Linked DNA regions of Homo sapiens. The protein of the gene in region 3 interacts with the protein of the main gene of each other region in a pairwise test. Each region holds a gene or a part of one and is shown on either strand. Other genes may lie near its edges.

What was found.
Region 1: the proteins of TSGA10IP (region 3) and CRACR2B interact in binary tests that used the Homo sapiens proteins (3 or more experiments, as listed by UniProt).
Region 2: the proteins of TSGA10IP (region 3) and GOLGA6L9 interact in binary tests that used the Homo sapiens proteins (3 or more experiments, as listed by UniProt).
Region 4: the proteins of TSGA10IP (region 3) and STX11 interact in binary tests that used the Homo sapiens proteins (3 or more experiments, as listed by UniProt).

Annotation. Positions count from the first base shown.
Region 1 is NC_000011.10:826,422-830,718, reverse strand, and holds the start of CRACR2B (EF-hand calcium-binding domain-containing protein 4A), read right to left. Parts: upstream 2,801-4,297; 5' UTR 2,112-2,800; coding exon 1,947-2,111; intron 1,868-1,946; coding exon 1,756-1,867; coding exon of another isoform or gene 1,536-1,755; intron 1,360-1,535; coding exon 1,179-1,359; intron 752-1,178; coding exon of another isoform or gene 734-751; coding exon 587-733; intron 470-586; coding exon 382-469; coding exon of another isoform or gene 99-381; coding exon 6-98; intron 1-5. UniProt on the Homo sapiens protein: Plays a role in store-operated Ca(2+) entry (SOCE).
Region 2 is NC_000015.10:82,428,413-82,432,615, forward strand, and holds the start of GOLGA6L9 (golgin subfamily A member 6-like protein 9), read left to right. Parts: upstream 1-1,403; 5' UTR 1,404-1,667; coding exon 1,668-1,751; intron 1,752-2,370; exon of another isoform or gene 2,371-2,482; intron 2,483-3,417; coding exon 3,418-3,537; exon of another isoform or gene 3,538-4,159; coding exon 4,160-4,203.
Region 3 is NC_000011.10:65,944,106-65,948,279, reverse strand, and holds the start of TSGA10IP (testis-specific protein 10-interacting protein), read right to left. Parts: upstream 2,801-4,174; 5' UTR 2,605-2,800; coding exon 2,458-2,604; exon of another isoform or gene 2,414-2,457; intron 1,401-2,413; coding exon 1,264-1,400; intron 1,171-1,263; coding exon 452-1,170; intron 280-451; coding exon 132-279; intron 1-131.
Region 4 is NC_000006.12:144,181,517-144,185,016, reverse strand, and holds part of STX11 (syntaxin-11), read right to left. Parts: intron 1-3,500. UniProt on the Homo sapiens protein: SNARE that acts to regulate protein transport between late endosomes and the trans-Golgi network.

The sequences.
Region 1 (4,297 bases), about 65 Mb from region 3:
CTCACCTCCCGCTGCCGCAGGCCCGCGCGTTCCAGGTCCTGCTCGCGGCTCTGCAGCTCCAGCTCCAGACGGCTTCTCCGCTCCCCGCGGGCGAAGTTCTGGGACGCACGGAGGACCACTGAGCCTCCGCCGGCCGCTCGGCCATGCAAAAGAGGTACACGGAGGGCCAGGGGCTGGGAGTGGGCCCGGGCGGAGCGGGGTCGGGTGGAGAAGACCGGACGGGGGTGATACGTGAGGCCCAGTGGGATCTCCTCGGGCTGAGGGCAGCCTGGACCCGCGGAGGTGGGGCCGTCGGGGAGGGATTAATTCAGAGAAGGCGGAGCCAGGGAGGCCAGCGAGGTGGGATTGGGCCTGGCGGGAGGGGCGGGGCCCGAGGCCCACCTGACTCGGCGGGCGCCGGCTCTGCTCCCGAAGCTGCTCCGTCTCCTCGTACAGAGCGCGCACCTCCCTCTCGTGCTCGCTCTCGCGCCTTCGGGGGACCGGGCGACCCCGGATGAGAACTTGCCAGCGCTACAGCCCCCTGGCACCGCCTCTGCTGCTGCCCTGAGGCCCTCCATTGGCCCCCATACCCCACCCCGGCCCTCACCTCCGCAGCGCCTGCTCCAGGCCGTCGCGCTCCCGGGCCGCCTCCTCCAGGCAGGCCGACGCGCGTATCAGAACATCCTCGAAAGAGCCCAGCAGCTCGGGGCGCTCGCGCTGCAGCCTGGCCCAGAGCGTCCTCACAGCCCGCTGCCTGGAGGGCGGGCGGGAACTGAGGCTGGAGCTGGCAGAAGCGGGAAGCAGGCTTCCCTCCGCCAGCAGCAAACCCTTAGGAGACTTCTTCGCCCCTGGGCAGGACAGGAGCACTTGCTGCGTGCAGGGCATCCCTCCCGTGAGCGCTTTCGCCCCTGCCCGGCGTGCGTGGTCGGTGAGGTGTGTGTACCCTGGGCAGTGCCGGTATGTGGCCCCGCGCCCGGCGCTGCCCCTCCTCCCTGCAGCCCTGGCTGCTGCCTCATGAAATGCAAATTCTGCGGGAAATCATGCCGGGTCCCTCCCAGGGAATCGCAGCTGACGCTAGGCTGGGCCTGACCCGGCCTAGAGACCCTGTGCAGAACCAGCACTCGGGTGACAAGGGCAGACAGCATGCAGGCAGAGAAACAGCAGAGCGGGCAGTGGGAGCGGGGCCAGCGCCGACTCACTTGCCCAGGACCGGGGCCACCCCCAGCTGCTCCAGCACAGTGTGGAATCGCTCCTCCTCTTCCTCCTCCTCATCCAGAGAGCCCGCCGTGCCCTGCACGTCGAGCCCGCCCGACTCAAAGGTCTCCTCGGGAGTCCTGCAGGGGTTCGCTCCCTGGGCTGACGCCACCCCCACAAACATCCCTGCGGGCATGGAGCGAGCGATTACCAGGGCTGTGGGTCGCCACCGTGGCTGTGTCCCCGTTCACCCTCCCAACGAGTATCCTGCCCTCTCTCAGGGCCCAGTTTCCTGTTTTCCTTCCTTATTCTGGTCCTATTGGCCTGGAAACAAGAGGTGACAGGCCAGCTCCCAGCCCTACCGGAGCTTAGCACAGGAGAGGAGCTGGGGGCCAGGAAGGTCAGCTCCACACACTCCACCGCAGCTAGGAGCCCCCAGGCGCGAGTGCGTGCAGACAAAGCACGGGCCCTGGAGGGAGGAGGACGAGAGGCACCGGCAGCCCTCAGGGCGCCACAAGTGCCAGGCCTCCTGATCAGGCCTCCAGCTCTGGGCAGTGGGGGATAGGCAGGCCACAGGCTCACCCAGGCCCAGGCAGAACTCCCTGGCGGTGAGGAAGCCAGTGTGAGCCCGGTCCAGACTTTCAAACACAGCCTCCAGCTGCTCTGGCGTGAGGGGCAGGTCGCTCTGGAGACCCTGGTCGGGGAAGGAGAGCAGAGATGAGCCGCTGCGGTCAACCCAGGGCCGAAGCAGTCTCTTGGGGTGGGGGACTCACCTGCAGGTCGTGCTTGGTGATGAAGCCCTTAGCCTCCTTGTCACACAGCAGAAACAGCTCCTCAGCCTGCTCCAGTATTGCAGCCCGCGGCCCTGCAGAGCCCCCCTCGAGTTCCCCCTCCTCCTCCTGGGCCTCATCAGCCCCAGGCTTTCCAGGGCTGGCCATGAGAGCAGGGGGCCTCAGCCTGGCCTTCAGGTGCTGTGAAGCCAAGGGAGGGTCAGAAGAAATTCAGGAGGGGAGCGGATGGGGTGCAAGTGTGTCTGAAGGCTCAGCCGAGGGCCCTCCCTGCAGCAGGTGGGAAGGTGGGCGGAAGGCAAGGTGGGACCAGGGGGCTGGGGGTGGAAAATGCTGCAGGCTTGGGGTGTCACTGGGGTGGTTGATGTAGGCTCAGGGCCTGTGGGTACTGCCCCAGTGGGTCTGGCATCTCAGGAGGCTGGAACCCAGGAGGGGCTGCCAACTTCAGGAGAGGAGGAGCTGGAGGTGATGGCAATCTCAGGGGCCAGTGGAGAAGACCTGGTGATAAGGAAGGTGGGGTCCTGAAAGCTGAGAGGAGCAGGCTTGGGGTCAGTGAGGGAGGAGCCCCTCACACTCTGCAACTGGAGATCTGATCCCAAGTGAGGGCTCAGCCAGTCCTGACCAAGTCCTTAGCCCCTGGCCTGGGCCTGTGTGGCCCAGCCTCATGACAGCTGGCAGGCAGGGCAGACTTCTCCCTCCTGCCCACCGGCCCCTCCCTCCCCACAACTGAGCCCACAGAGTGCAGGGGCAAGGTCCCAGCCTGCAGAGCCCTTCGCCTCTGACGCCCCACTCAGGAACACTTCCAGATTCGAGACCTAACACCCTTGCCCCACAACACTGAGGCCCTTCCCCGTTTCAGAACTCCCTGGGGCCTCCCTTCCCACCTCCTTGCAGGGACGCCCCGCCCCCTAACCAGAGCCACCTGTCCTTCACACAATGTCCTGATCCCGGATTTCCCAAAGCTGCTCCCCACCAACACCCGCCTTCCCCCACCGGGGAGCTGGGATCCTCTCCCCTCACTCTCCACCCAGCGTCCTTCCATGTTCCTTAGCCCGGGCGACCTCCAAAGAGGGCAAGTCTGGGCGGGTGAGAGAAGGGGACACGAGAGGCCAGGGCCATTGCCTCCAGGCCACGTTGTTGTCTCGCCCGCCCTCCGGCTTGCCGGCTAGACCTGAGGTCCACCCCAGCCGGAAGCCGCGCGGCAGCAGGGCCCCAGGGAGGTGGGAGGATGGGCTGGTGGGGTGGGGCGGCCAGCCTCCTGTGCTCCCCGAAACTCTGGGGGACAACCCCGCCCTTACCCCTGCCGCCTTGCGCCCCGAGGGGGTAACCGGAGTTCCCGACCGAGACGCTCAGGTTTGGCGCGGGCCACGGCGGCCCGGAGGGGGTGCCGGGCGGGCGGCAGTGGAGGGGCCTCAGCGGCGGGACCAGCGGTCGCCTACCCGCGAGTTGCGCCGCCGCACCTGCCGCGCGCCCGGGCCGCTCCTCCCGGAAACACTGGGCGCGCCCCGCCCCAGCTGGGACCCGGACGGGACGTAGAGGGCACTGGGCCCCGAGCGACCCCTGCCGCTTCGCAGGCACCGAGACCCCCGCTTGGGCCGGCCCCGGGAGGAGCCACTCTGCGCCGCTGTCGCCTGTCCCCGCCTCTCTGCGCTGCCCCGGCGGCCCGATCCCTGGAGGCTCGAGCGAGCAGTGAAGCAACGATATGCCCCAGAGACCCAGGGACCCCCCGGAGCAGGGACAAGGCTGCGGGGGGCGGGCGCAGACACCAGCGCCTGGGAGGGGCCCCTCCTGTCCGGGGGGAGCCCGACTTAAGGCGCCAAAAAGTGTGTGTAGGAAAAAGCCGGGCAGGAAACAGACCAAATACTTTCAGCGGTTATCTCTAGGGGTGGGGAGCCTTTACTTTCTTCTCTATACTTTCCCGGTTTTTAAACAATAAACATGTAGGCCGGGCGCCTGTAATCCCAGCACTTTGGGGGGCTGAGACAGGGGCAGATCACCTGAGGTCAGGAGTTCGAGACCAGCCTGCCCAACATGGCGAAACCCCGTCTCTACTAAAAATACAAAAAATTAGCCAGGTGTGGTGGTGGGCGCCTGTAATCCCAGCACTTTGGGAGGCTGAGCCAGGAGAATCACTTGAACTCGGGAGGCAGAGTTTGCAGTGAGCCGAGATTGTGCCATTGCACTGGGCAACAAGAACGAAACTCCATCTCAAAACAAAACAATGAACGTGTAATGCTAGAAAATGTTTAACTTAGCAGTATTCAGTGTATATGTATGGGTGAACGAGCTGGGGACTCAGGCAGGTCCCACCTCAGTAGCCCCTCCTGGCTCTCCTT
Region 2 (4,203 bases), on a different chromosome or scaffold from region 3:
ATAAAACACATTGGATGGAGGGTGCGAGTAGGAAGGAGATTCTTGTCTTTTAATTGCATGTCATTGTTTCATAACAAGGCAGAACATATGGTAACCCTGGCTTTGGACCTACAGAAGGAAACACATTTTTCTACCTGCTGTATGCCAGAGGTTCTTGAACACTTGGAGGGATTACTGCAGCACAGATTGCTGAACCCTACTCCAGAGTTTCTGATTCACCAGGTCCAGGGTGGGGCCTGAGAATTTGCACTTATAAAAAGGTCTCAGGTGCTGCTGGTGCTGCTAGTCCATAGACTACATTTTGAGAACCACTCTTGTCTATTAAGTGTAAATTGTAGAACTCTAGAAAAAAGCTTAGTTCAGTCTGGGATAAGAAGCACACAGGTTATGGAGAAAAATCATGAAAGATTCAACCCTTGATCCCAGCCTAGTGTGGATTTCAGGTAACAAGCAGTACACAGTGACATAACACAATTCTTGGTTTTCATGATTGCAAGTCATAGCCAGGTATCAAGTGAGAAATTCAGTTTCATTTGCAAGGCCTAGAGTGGCCTGGTGATTCTAGAAAAATGGGCCTTGTATTTGTTTTAAACCAGTAAAGAGCTTTAAGTGCTTATTAAATTGTAAGTTTTGTGTTCCTACTTATTTTGTATCTTATTTTATTTTATTTTATTTCTTTTGAGATGGAGTCTTGCTCTGTCACCCAGGCTGGAGTGCAGTGGCATGAGCTTGGCTCACTGCAACCTCCATCTCCTGGGTTCAAGTGATTCTCCTGCCTCAGCCTCCCAAATAGCTGGGATTACAAGCACCCACCACCACACCTGGTTAGTTTTTGTATTTTTAGTAGAGACAGGGTTTCTTCATGTTGGCCAGGCTGGTCTCGAACTCCTGACCTCAGGTCATCCACCCACCTCGGCCTCCCAAAGTGATGGCATTACAGGGGTGAGCCACCGCACCTGGCCCAAAAGCTTTGTGTTTTTAAAGATATTAGACATGTTTCTTGTTTTTAAAAGAAATCTTAACAATAATGTAGGAGAATAAGACAAACATTTTTCCAAAAAAGAGAAATTGTTGTGATTATTCTCTGTTATTGGAATGTCGGATACTATAGTCAGCTTCATTAATCATCAAGAATGCTATGGATTTTCCATTTTTATAGGGTCTATATCTCAGTTAAGGTAATACTTGTAATTCTTGTGCTCCATTTGAAGATGAAAAATATAGGCCAAAATCATAGACTTTGCATAGAAGCTGCATAATGAAGACAGCTCTGGAGGAACACATAGATACACACAGACACACATATATAAAGTATATACACATATATTTTTTAAAGTTTATTTTTAACAGTTTTAAAGCTTTTAAAGCAAAAGCCAGCCCCTCCCCTCTCCCAGAGTGGGCGGCCTCTCCCCTCTCTCTGAGTGGGCGGGGACAGCGGTTGCATGGGCAGCTTTCCTTATGATGCTACAGGTCCCTCTGGACATGCTGCGCCTGGCCACGCCTCCTTTCCCTTTCATCTTTCTCACTGACCAATGGGCTTGGAACATTAAGGCCACGCCCCTATTCTGCGTTCCATTGGTGCCCTGGTTACGCCACCTGTGGCTCAGTTGCACAGCTGCCTGGTAGGTGACTGGAGGCATTGAGCAGTGCTCACTGGTATTTCGCTGATGTGGCCCCAACCCCGCCTCCCTCCCCACCCCGCGATGTCAGAAAAAACACAACAGGGGAAATTGGCCGCAGCCAAGAAAAAGGTAAAACACACCAGGTCATGGCCCCCAACCCAGCCACAGATCCCCTCCGATGACAAGACCGGTGCCAGAGTCCATACCACTCCTGAGGCATACCAGATGGGGCCCCCCAACCCCAGCCCCTCTGGGCTCCCCCAACCAAAGCCTAGTCAGTCAGCCCCACCCCTTCAGCAAGCAGCCCAGTCCCTGCCCTTGCCAATCACCCCAGGGTGACTTTGGGCAGGTGACTCCTGGGGCTCCCTGCTCCATAATCAGCCCTCACCTCCTGCCACCCCAAGCCCAACCTCCCTGGGCTCTTTGGGCTTGCGTCTCCCAGGACCTGGGTCCCCCAGCCCCAGGCCCTGCCCTCACCAGTCATCCCTGGGTGGCTTTGGGCTGGTGACTCCCGGGGCTCCCTACTGCAGACTCTGCCCTCCCCTCCTGCTGCCCCAAGCTCGACCTCCCTAGGCTTCTTGGGCTGGCGTCTCTGAGGACCTGGGTCGAAACCGTGTGTTTCCCTCCCCCATCGTGGAGCAGCGACTCGGGCATCGCGCTGATGTGGTCCCCTCCCCTGGGAGGAGTGGAATGCAATGATGTCACAGTGCCCCTAGGAACTGTCATTACTGCTGCAAGACCGGCCTTTGATCTTACAACCCAGTCCCCTAAGTTTTCTCACCCCATTTCTGGTTCCTCTGGTTGCAGCACAAATTTCCAGCTGGAAGGGGAGTGGAGACTATGGGACCTAGGAGCAAGAGGTTTCAGGCTGCCTTACTCCCTTAACATAGACATTGACAGTGGGAAAAGCCTACACTTCCCCTGTGAGCTCAAAATGTTCACAGTATCTCTGGGTGGCAATGGGAGAATGGGTTTGGTTTGGTTTTTTCCCAGGCTTCTACTTTCCAGAGAGACTTTAACATTTTTTTCTGAGTTCTCCACGGTTCTGGGACCAGACTGCCCTTCAGTCAGTGGCCTCTGAAGTGAGATTTGCTCATCTTCTGTGGAATAGATCTTGGGAAACTGAACTTGACAGCTTGAATCTTCCTCATATCGTCTCAACCTGGGGTACTTTGAGTGCCACAGGATAAATGCGGGACATCTTTCTGAAGCATCATTTTCCCTTGATTCTCTTGAGAAAATGCATTAATGTACTTAGGGATGACAGACACATAGGTTTCCAAGCGTATACCAGACTTCGCTCTGAAATGAGGCTTGGGTTGTCCTCTTTCTGATAAATTCCCAGATTTAATAGAAAAGCTGCCTTCTGCCATGAGGACACATTGATATGAAAGTGTGAGAGGTACTGGTACGCTTCTTCACGCTAGCAGACCTGTGAGGATGTATGACTCTAAACCACACGGCCTACAGTTCCTGCCTGCTTAATGTGTGCTTTTCTACCTCTGCCCCTGGTTTTGGTCCCTGGAAGCTGCTGATTCATGGCAAAACCCCAGAGCTTGGAGTCAGAGGACTGAGTTTAAGTTCCAGTATTGCCTTTTTTGATCTTTCTTTTTTTTTTTTTCTATCCATGATATCAATCCCTCTCAGTCACTAAGTGATTGTGACAACACCTTGTACAGTTGTTGGTGGCATTACATCAGATGGTATATAAGGGTATTTTGTCAAAACTGTAAAGGAGGATGTGGCTGTAGGGGCTGATCATTCTCATGAGTGTTACTGCTCTTCTTTCCCACAGTTAAAAGCATATTGGCAGAGGAAGAGCCCTGGCATTCCAGCAGGAGCTAACAGGAAAAAGAAAATCAATGGCAGTAGCCCTGACACATTCACTTCTGGTGGTTACCACTCACCTGGGGATGTGAGTCTCGGCGGGCCAGGCTCCTGGGGACAGGGAGCCCAAGGGGCAGTAGAGGGTAATTGTTAAGATTGTAGATGGACTGTTGGGTACTGGTTAAGAATTCTGGATTTGAATCCTGCCTCTCCGTCTGCTAAGAATTGATTAGGGATTGATTAGCATATGATTTAGGGCAAGTTGCTTGAGGTCTTTGGGCCTCTCTTTTCACATCTGTATAATAGAGGTGGTATTTTTTGACTTCCATTTGTGAAGTTTAAATGAGATTCGTTATTGTTGCTTTTATGTGAATCCTTAGTACATGGCCTGCTGCAAACACCCAGGACACCGAGGAAATGGTCGTTGCTGTTTGATTTTCCTCATCCCCAGTCTCAAGGGGAAGCCAGGCCAATGAGAAGAGCCACTTGCCATCAGGCTGTCCCTTTAGGAGTCACTGAAAGGGCCCCAGGGTGGGATGGTGGGGAGATAAGAACCACGAGAGAAGTTGGCACAAAGGAGTTATGGGAAAAAGGTTCCAAGATAGGCAGAAAAGAAGCTTTTGCCAGTTGATGGGGGAAGAAAGGAAGTCAGAGGGCTTAGACAGTGAGGGGGGACAGAACATCTCCATGTGCACTCTCATCTCTTGGAGTCAGCAACAGGTATCTACGGGGAGGGCCGTGCATCCTCTACTAC
Region 3 (4,174 bases):
ATGATCCAAAAGTTTGGTGAATGGATAAATAAAGAAATGAATGAGAGTTCAAATGCCTAAGCATCTCTTGGAGAAGTGGCTCCATCTCTACTTCTCATTCTGGGCTCCCACTCCCTTCTCTTCCCTCTTACCTGGTGGCTTCCTGTCGTTTGTGGAAGGTGCGATTAGGGAGGTTGGCAGACACGAAAGTTTCATCGTATCCCGAGGCATAGGCCTTTCCATTCCGCTTGGAGGCCTGGAAGGCAGCCCTCAAAGTCTTCCAGGGCAGCTTTTGGGGGCCTGCCCACAGTGGGACCAAGTCAGGGGCTGCCCTCTCCCTCTCAGCCCACCAGGCAACGCCCCCCAGCACCCAGAGCACAGCCCAGCCTGCCTGAGCCCCTGCCTCCCTGACTGCTCCCTGTTCCCTGCGGTGTAGCTTCGGGGGAATCCAGGCTCTGAGCCCCACGCTCACCACAGTCCAGGTCTCTCTGTAGCTGCCTGTGCAGCTTCTCCAGGTCCCATGGCCCCTGCAGCTCCTTGGCCCTTGTCTTCCTCCATTGTCGCCTTCGGAGGTTGTTGAAGCTGGGGCTGCTCCCCTGGCTCTGGCCCTGCACTTCTCCCTCATCGGAGGCTTCCTCTCCAGAAATCTGCCCCTTTCTCTGACAACCAGCCCTCCTTCTGCAGGGAGTCCTGTGCTCTCCCTCCTCAGCCTCCTCTGTGGCCTCTGAAAATTGCTCCTCCTCTGAGATCGACCCCCTCCTGGGGCGCTGGGGCAGCACCCCAGAACTCAGACCCCTCTCGGCCTCCTCAGCACCCAGGCTTTGCAGCTGGACCTGCTTGTCGGACGCCGATCCTGATCCTGGCCTCCTCCCAGGCAGCTGGAGACCACTGGGGGGCTCTGATCCTAGCTCCCCTTTGCCAGTAGGGATGGAGACACCGCCCCAGGCTCCCAGCTGCTGTCTCGCCTTCAGGTTTTGCGCCTCTGTCTTCCAGCAGCAGCCATGGGCCTCTGGGAGGTTGGCCGTGGACTTGCGCCTGGACTGACGCTGGGAGAACGAGGAGGGCATGGGCAGGGCTTGGTGGCCAGGGGTTGGGGAGCTTGGCTGAAGCACAGCCCGGACATCTGTGGCGATGCTCTCCCAGGCCCACTGGAAGGGGAAGGAGGGTTTCCGAGGAAGAAGCGGGAAGTGACTGAAGAAGGAAAGGGTGGGGGTCAGGGTCGGCGCCAGCCCCCAGAGGGCCCTGACCCCCAACAGCCTCCTGACCCATCCCACTGCTGCTTACTCTTCAGACTCTTCAGAGCCCTGTCCTTTCTTGCTCTGGCCCCTGGGCTTGCGGTCCTTCTTTGCTGTCTGCCTTGAGCTCTGAGACCTCTGCTGCAGGTCTTGATTTGGCACACCATCACCACTCCCCAGGCAGCCCTGGGCAGAGACAGTAGGGGAGGAGCAGCCAGCTTGAGCAGCCTCCTGGACTGTGTTGCACCTCACCCGGGTGCTCCCTCTGTGCACCTGGCTGGGCCTGGCTGGGTCCCTCTGGGCCCTCGTTACCATAAAAACCAACCAAACAGGGCTGGATGTGGTGCTCACACCTGTAACCCCAGCACTTTGGGAGGCCAAGGGGGGCGGATCACCTGAGGCCAGGAGTTCGAGACCAGCCTGGCCAACATGGCGAAACCCCATCTGTACTAAAAATACAAAAAAAATTAGCCGAGTGTGGTGGCCTGCGCCTGTAATCCTAGCTACTTGGGAGGCTGAGGCAGGACAATCGCTTGAACCTAGGAGTTGGAGGCTGCAGTGAGCCGAGATTGTGTCATTGCACTCCAGCCTGGGCAACAAGAGTGAAACTCCATCTCAAAAAAACAAACAAACAAAAAAACCCGACCGAGCACCACCTCCGTTCTGCATATTAAAATAGCAACAGCTGCCACCTGCTGAGCACCTATTGTGTGCTCAGGACTTTCATGCATAAACACACGTAACCTTCCCAAGGACCCTAGGAGGCCGGTACTCACTATCACCTCCATCATGTGGAGGAGAAAGCTGAGGCTCAGAGAGGCTGAGTAACTGAGGTCACACAGCTGGGAAGTGGTGGAGCCCAGATTTGTCACCATTGCGCTAGGCCACCTCTGGGCCCTGGACTGCACTCCCAAATGTCCCACTGGGCCCTGGACCTGCTACAGCCAAGGCAGAAACCAAGGTGGTCTTCATCAAGGTGGTCTTCATCTTTCCTGAAACCTGCTCCTTCCGCAGTGTTCCCTGAATGGCCCCATCATCCCTGGGAGTCACTCCTGGGCGTCATCCCTCGGCTTCTCCCAAGGCCCTTAGGCCTCCCTGTGGTCCCTGTCCCACTCCTGCCTCCCTGAGTTTCATCTGGACCTCAGCTCAGGTCTTGTGGCTTCTCAAGGGCCTCCCCAGCCCAGGCCTCCCTGACCCACCTGGCTCTAGGCAGCTGGAAGTGTCCTCACTGGGCCTCCCTCACCTGCTTGTCCTGAGAGACGGTCGACAGCAGCTTGAGCAGCCCCGTTCTGGTTCCTGGAGCCTGGAGCCGCACGTCCTGCCCTGGTCGCACCGACGGGGTCCTAACCAACTGTTGGTAGGTATTTAGCATATCGGTGTCCTGCCCCATCCTGCCCCATCCCCCATCCGCACCGTAGAACTGCCTAACAGGCCATCTCTATGGCAACCAGTCCTCAGCCAGTCTCAATGGGTCTGGCAAAAAGCATGCTAGGAAGGGGTCAGTGGGGTATGTGAGGCCAATCTCCTTCTGGGAGAGAGTTCAGCAGGATGCCCAGGAGTCATTTAGCGCAGAGACCCAGGCCCAAGTCCTGCCTCTGCCTCATCCACAGGCTCCCCGTGTGACCTGGTGTAAGTCCCCTGTCCCTACTCTGCCTGTGTTTCCCCATCCATCTGTACAGGGGAGTCAGCCTGTCTCCTGTGCTGCCCCCCGGCCTGGCCGAGTCCCTGAAGGAGCCAAACTGAACTTTCACAAGATTTTATTTAAATCCTTGCACTCCCAGGCTGGGAGTGGTGGCTCACACCTGTAATCCCAGCACTTTGGGGGGCTGAGGCAGGTGGATCACTGGAGGTCAAGAGTTCAAGACCAGCCTGGCCAAAATGGCAAAACCCCATCTCTACCAAAAATGCAAAAAAGATTAGCCAGGCCTGGTGGCGCATGCCTGTAATCCCAGCTACTCAGGCTGAGGCACGAGAATCACTTGAACCCGGGAGGCAGAGGCTGCATCGACCCCAGATTGCACCACTGCACTCCAGCCAGGGCGACAGAGTGAGACTCTGTCTCAATAAAAAAGAAACAAATAAACAAATCTTTGCACTCCCAGCCCCAGCCAGGAAGTTGAATGCTGTGTCCAGGAGAGAGGCAGCAGGCCATTCAGAGCCTGGGCCCAGGCCCACCTGGCCATCTTCATAGGCCATGAGGTTCTGGAGGGAGTTACAACATTGAAAGCTTACCCCAGGCCGGGCAGTGGCTGTAATTCCAGCACTTTGGGAGGCCGAGGTGGGCGGATTGCCTGAGGTCAGGAGTTGGAGACCAGCCTGGCCAACATGGTGAAACCCCATCTCCCACCTGGATTGAAACTCTATCTCTACTAAAAATACAAAAATTAGCCGGGCATGGTGGTGGGCACCTGTAATCCCAGCTACTCGGGAGGCTGAGGCTCTCCCTCTCCGGGTTCTCTTGAACCCGGGAGGTGGAGGTTGCAGTGAGCCGAGGCCACACCAGTGTACTCCAGCCTGGGCGAAAGAGTGAGACTCCATCTCAAAAAAATATATTTTTTTAATATAAAAAAAGTAAAAGATCTTACCCCAAACTTCTAGCAGTGCTCAAAAGCCTTGGAATCTTAAGTCCCCATGGGACGCCTGGTGCTGACCACTGAGGCTTGCAGTACAGGGATGTGGTGCTGAGCTGAGGCCCTGGAGACGGACCAACTGGGCTGGAGGCCTGGTCTCACTAGCTCTGTGACCAACTCCCCACTCTGCAAAACTGGAATCACGGGCCCAGCTCATAGGTTTGTTGCAAGGACTACATGAAACCCCAAACGATGACATCGGTAAATGTTATTATTACTAACACTAGCTGGCCGTTCTTTTGAGGCAGCAGAGCATCATGGCTAAGAGCATAGAGGAAGCGCTTGGGTGCAAATCCCAGCTCCTCCACTTGTCCCGTACCCTCTCGGTGC
Region 4 (3,500 bases), on a different chromosome or scaffold from region 3:
AAAAGATCCACCCTGGACCAAAACTATGCCTTCACCTGGTCTGAATTTCTTGATATTCAACTGTTTCCTCACTTTGAACAAAATTGAAAGACAAACCACCAACTGGGGAGAAATTATAATATATGACAGACAAGAGGTTAAGATACTTAATATATATATTTCTAAGCTACCAAAAAATCTACTTACCCAAAGACAGTGAAGCAATTCAGAGAAGATGTAAATGACAGAGAACATAAACGTATGTTATATATGCCTGATATTTTCTAGGCATCTTTCATGTGATACCCTCTTTAGTCTTCATACAGATTCTATGAGTAGGTACTGCCATTATCAGAGTTGGTGTGAGCATAGGGAGATCAAGGAATTTACTCAAGGTCATCAGTAAGTGAACACTCAGGCGTTAGAATAGCACCACTTAACCAATGCACTAAATAATCTTTAGCAAAAGTATAAAAATATAGTCACAAAAGACTTCTGTATTAAACAAGGAAATGCAAATTAAACTGCTGAGAATTTTCTTGCCCATAAAGTTAGCAGGAATTTTTTAAAAACAATACTTTTTCAAATGGGTAAGGATTCTGGGAACTCTCAAAACATACTGGTAATTCCATCTCATGCCAGTCAGAATGGTGACTATTAAAATGTCAAGAAACAACAGATGCTGATGGTGGTTGTGAAGAAATAGGAATGCTTTTACACTGTTGGTGGGAATGTGAATTAGTTCAACCATTGTGGAAGACAGTGTGGCAATTCCTCAAAGATTTAGAACTGGAAACACCATTTGAGCCAGCGATCCCATTACTGGGTATATACCCAAAGGAATATAAATCATTCTATTATAAAGACACATGCATGTCAATGTTCACTGCAGCCCTATTCACAATAGCAAAGACACGGAACCAACCCAAATGCCCATCAATGTTAGACTGTACTATACAGCCATAAAGAGGAATGAGATCATGTTCTTTGCAGGGACATGGATGAAGCTGGAAGCCATTATCCTCAGCAAACTAATGCAGGAACAGAAAACCAAACACTGCATGTTCTCACTTATAAGTGGGAGGTGAACAATGAGAACACCTGGACACAGGGAGGGGAATAATGCACAGTGGGGCCTGTCGGGGAAGTGCGGGGGAGGGGAGAGCATTAGGGAAAAGAGCTGATGCATGCTGAGCTTAAAACCTAGGTGATGGGATGATCTGTGCAGCAAACCACCATGGCACATGTTTACCTCTGTAACAAACCTGCGCATCTTGCACGTGTACCCCGGAACTTAAAAACATAAAATAAGATAAAATAATAAAATCAGTATTATTGTTCAGGGTCTTGAGACCTCTCTCAGCTTCTGCTGAACTAAGCAAGTACATTAAATTTTTTTTCTAGATTAAAAAAAAGTCTAATTTAAAACTCCTGTGGTGTCTTTGTTTTTGCAACTTAATGATTTTGCAAACAAAGTCTATTCATTATTTTAAAAAATTGGTAATTGATAGAATCTTTCTGGAAGTCAGTTTAGTAATATGTATCAAAAGCTTTTCAAGTGTGCATTTGTTTTGACATATGTGCATTTATTCTAAAGATATAATGCAAAAGTGTATGAAACTCATTGCTCAAAATATTTTCATCACCACCTTGTTTTTGCAGAAATTCAGAAATAAGTTAAATGCACAATAATGAGGTCCTGGCTTCTACATAAGTCACAGAGTTTAGAAGGCTATCTAATGGCATGAAAAGCATATATACTCTGTTAGGCATAAAAAGTAGTTATGGAGAAAGAGAATGTGCAGCATTCTGAAACAGAAACTTGAGTAATACACATCAAAGTGTTAATTATAGTTTTCTTTGAGTTGTGGAATTATACATGGTTTAAATTGCTTCCTTTTGCTTTTCTGTATTTTCCAAAATTTTTATAATGTCCACACACATTTCATAATTTAAAAACCCCCATAAAACAATAAATACTATTCGTTTAAAGGACTAACTCCTTAGCAACTTTTAAAAGTCTATGCATGGCAATCAAGTTAACATTTTATGCTACCTGGGGAAAGCACATTAGCTAGTTTGCGTAGAGTTGAGCTGTACCCATCTGCTTAAGTTAGTACCCAATATAGTCTACCATGCAACAAGTGGATGAGATGGAATGGATGCATTTTGATGAACAAGGCAAGAATAGGTGAGAGATGCCTTCCTTCCTTACATGTTGGCCAAGCCTTACAAGGCACTTCAATGGAAGGAAATGGGTAGATAAGGGACTGTACCACGCCCTGGGACACTAGGGATCATTTGTATGTATCCTGCTTATCCTAGACAGGTCCTGTGCTCTGTATTGCTCTCCTACAGCCATTAAAAAGCTATTGGGGGAAATCATCTCATCACAATAAGAAGAGTCAAGTACAATTCAATCATATAGAAAATGGTTTTGGAAGATGTCCAGGGACAGTCATTCCTTCTCAAGATTGAACAACCATAAAGTCATAGATAGCAAATTATAAATCAGGTAAGGGCCCAAGCTCATGTGAAGGCGCAAGTCCATAATGTGCTAATAAGAGAAAAAGAAAGGGTACAGGAGACATAAAGATTCTCTATTGAGGTGTGGTAAAGGAGGGAAGGGGGCCTTCACCTGGCCTTCCTGCCCACCTCTCTTGGCTCAGCCAGCCTTGGATGAGTTGTCTCCACTGACATAGAAGGTCTCCTGGTCACCAGGGAGCAAACATTAGGAAAACTACAACAGAAAGTCAACGAAGAGACTGCTATTCCTAAGAATGTCTCCAAAAAGGTTAAAAGTGTATACACTACTGAAGTTATACAAAAATATAGAAGTGGGCACAAATAGAGAATCAAAATAACCTATATATCCCATAGCTTGATTCTGTACTATGAGTTCCTAGAAAGAGAACTATGGTAAATGAGAAAGAAAAATCAGACAATTCCACTGACCTTCCTGTCTTATTGTAATAAAAGATAATGTAATAAACTTTGGTAAATTGCATTCATCAAGTTGCTAAAAATAAGTCCTGCTTCAATTTGCATGGAGGTGAAGAATTCAAAAGAAAATTGACAACCAACTACCAAAAATCTGCTTCTGCTTTCTAATTTTCTTTTCAGGCATGCATATAATCTGTACTGAAAACCAGATCCAATAAGGAAGGAAGGGGGTATTGCTTAAGCCTTTTTTCATTGAGCAATAAAGTTTTGTGTAAGAGAAAACAAAGGAACAAAGAGATGATGGTAGCTCAGTGGTCCTCGGTCTGCAAGAGGTGACAGAATCTTCTGGAGAGCTTCAAAGATTACAGATGCCTGGGCACCTAGAGTTTCTGATTCGGTAGGCCTAGGATGATCTCCAGGTGATTATAATGCATACTCAAATTTGTGACCCATTCCATAGATACCTACCATGTCAGCTTTTTTTTTTTTTTTTTTTTTTTTTGAGGTGGTCTTGCTCTGTTGCCCAGGCTGGAGTGCAGTGGTACTATCTCGGCTCACTGTAACCTCTGCCTCCCGGG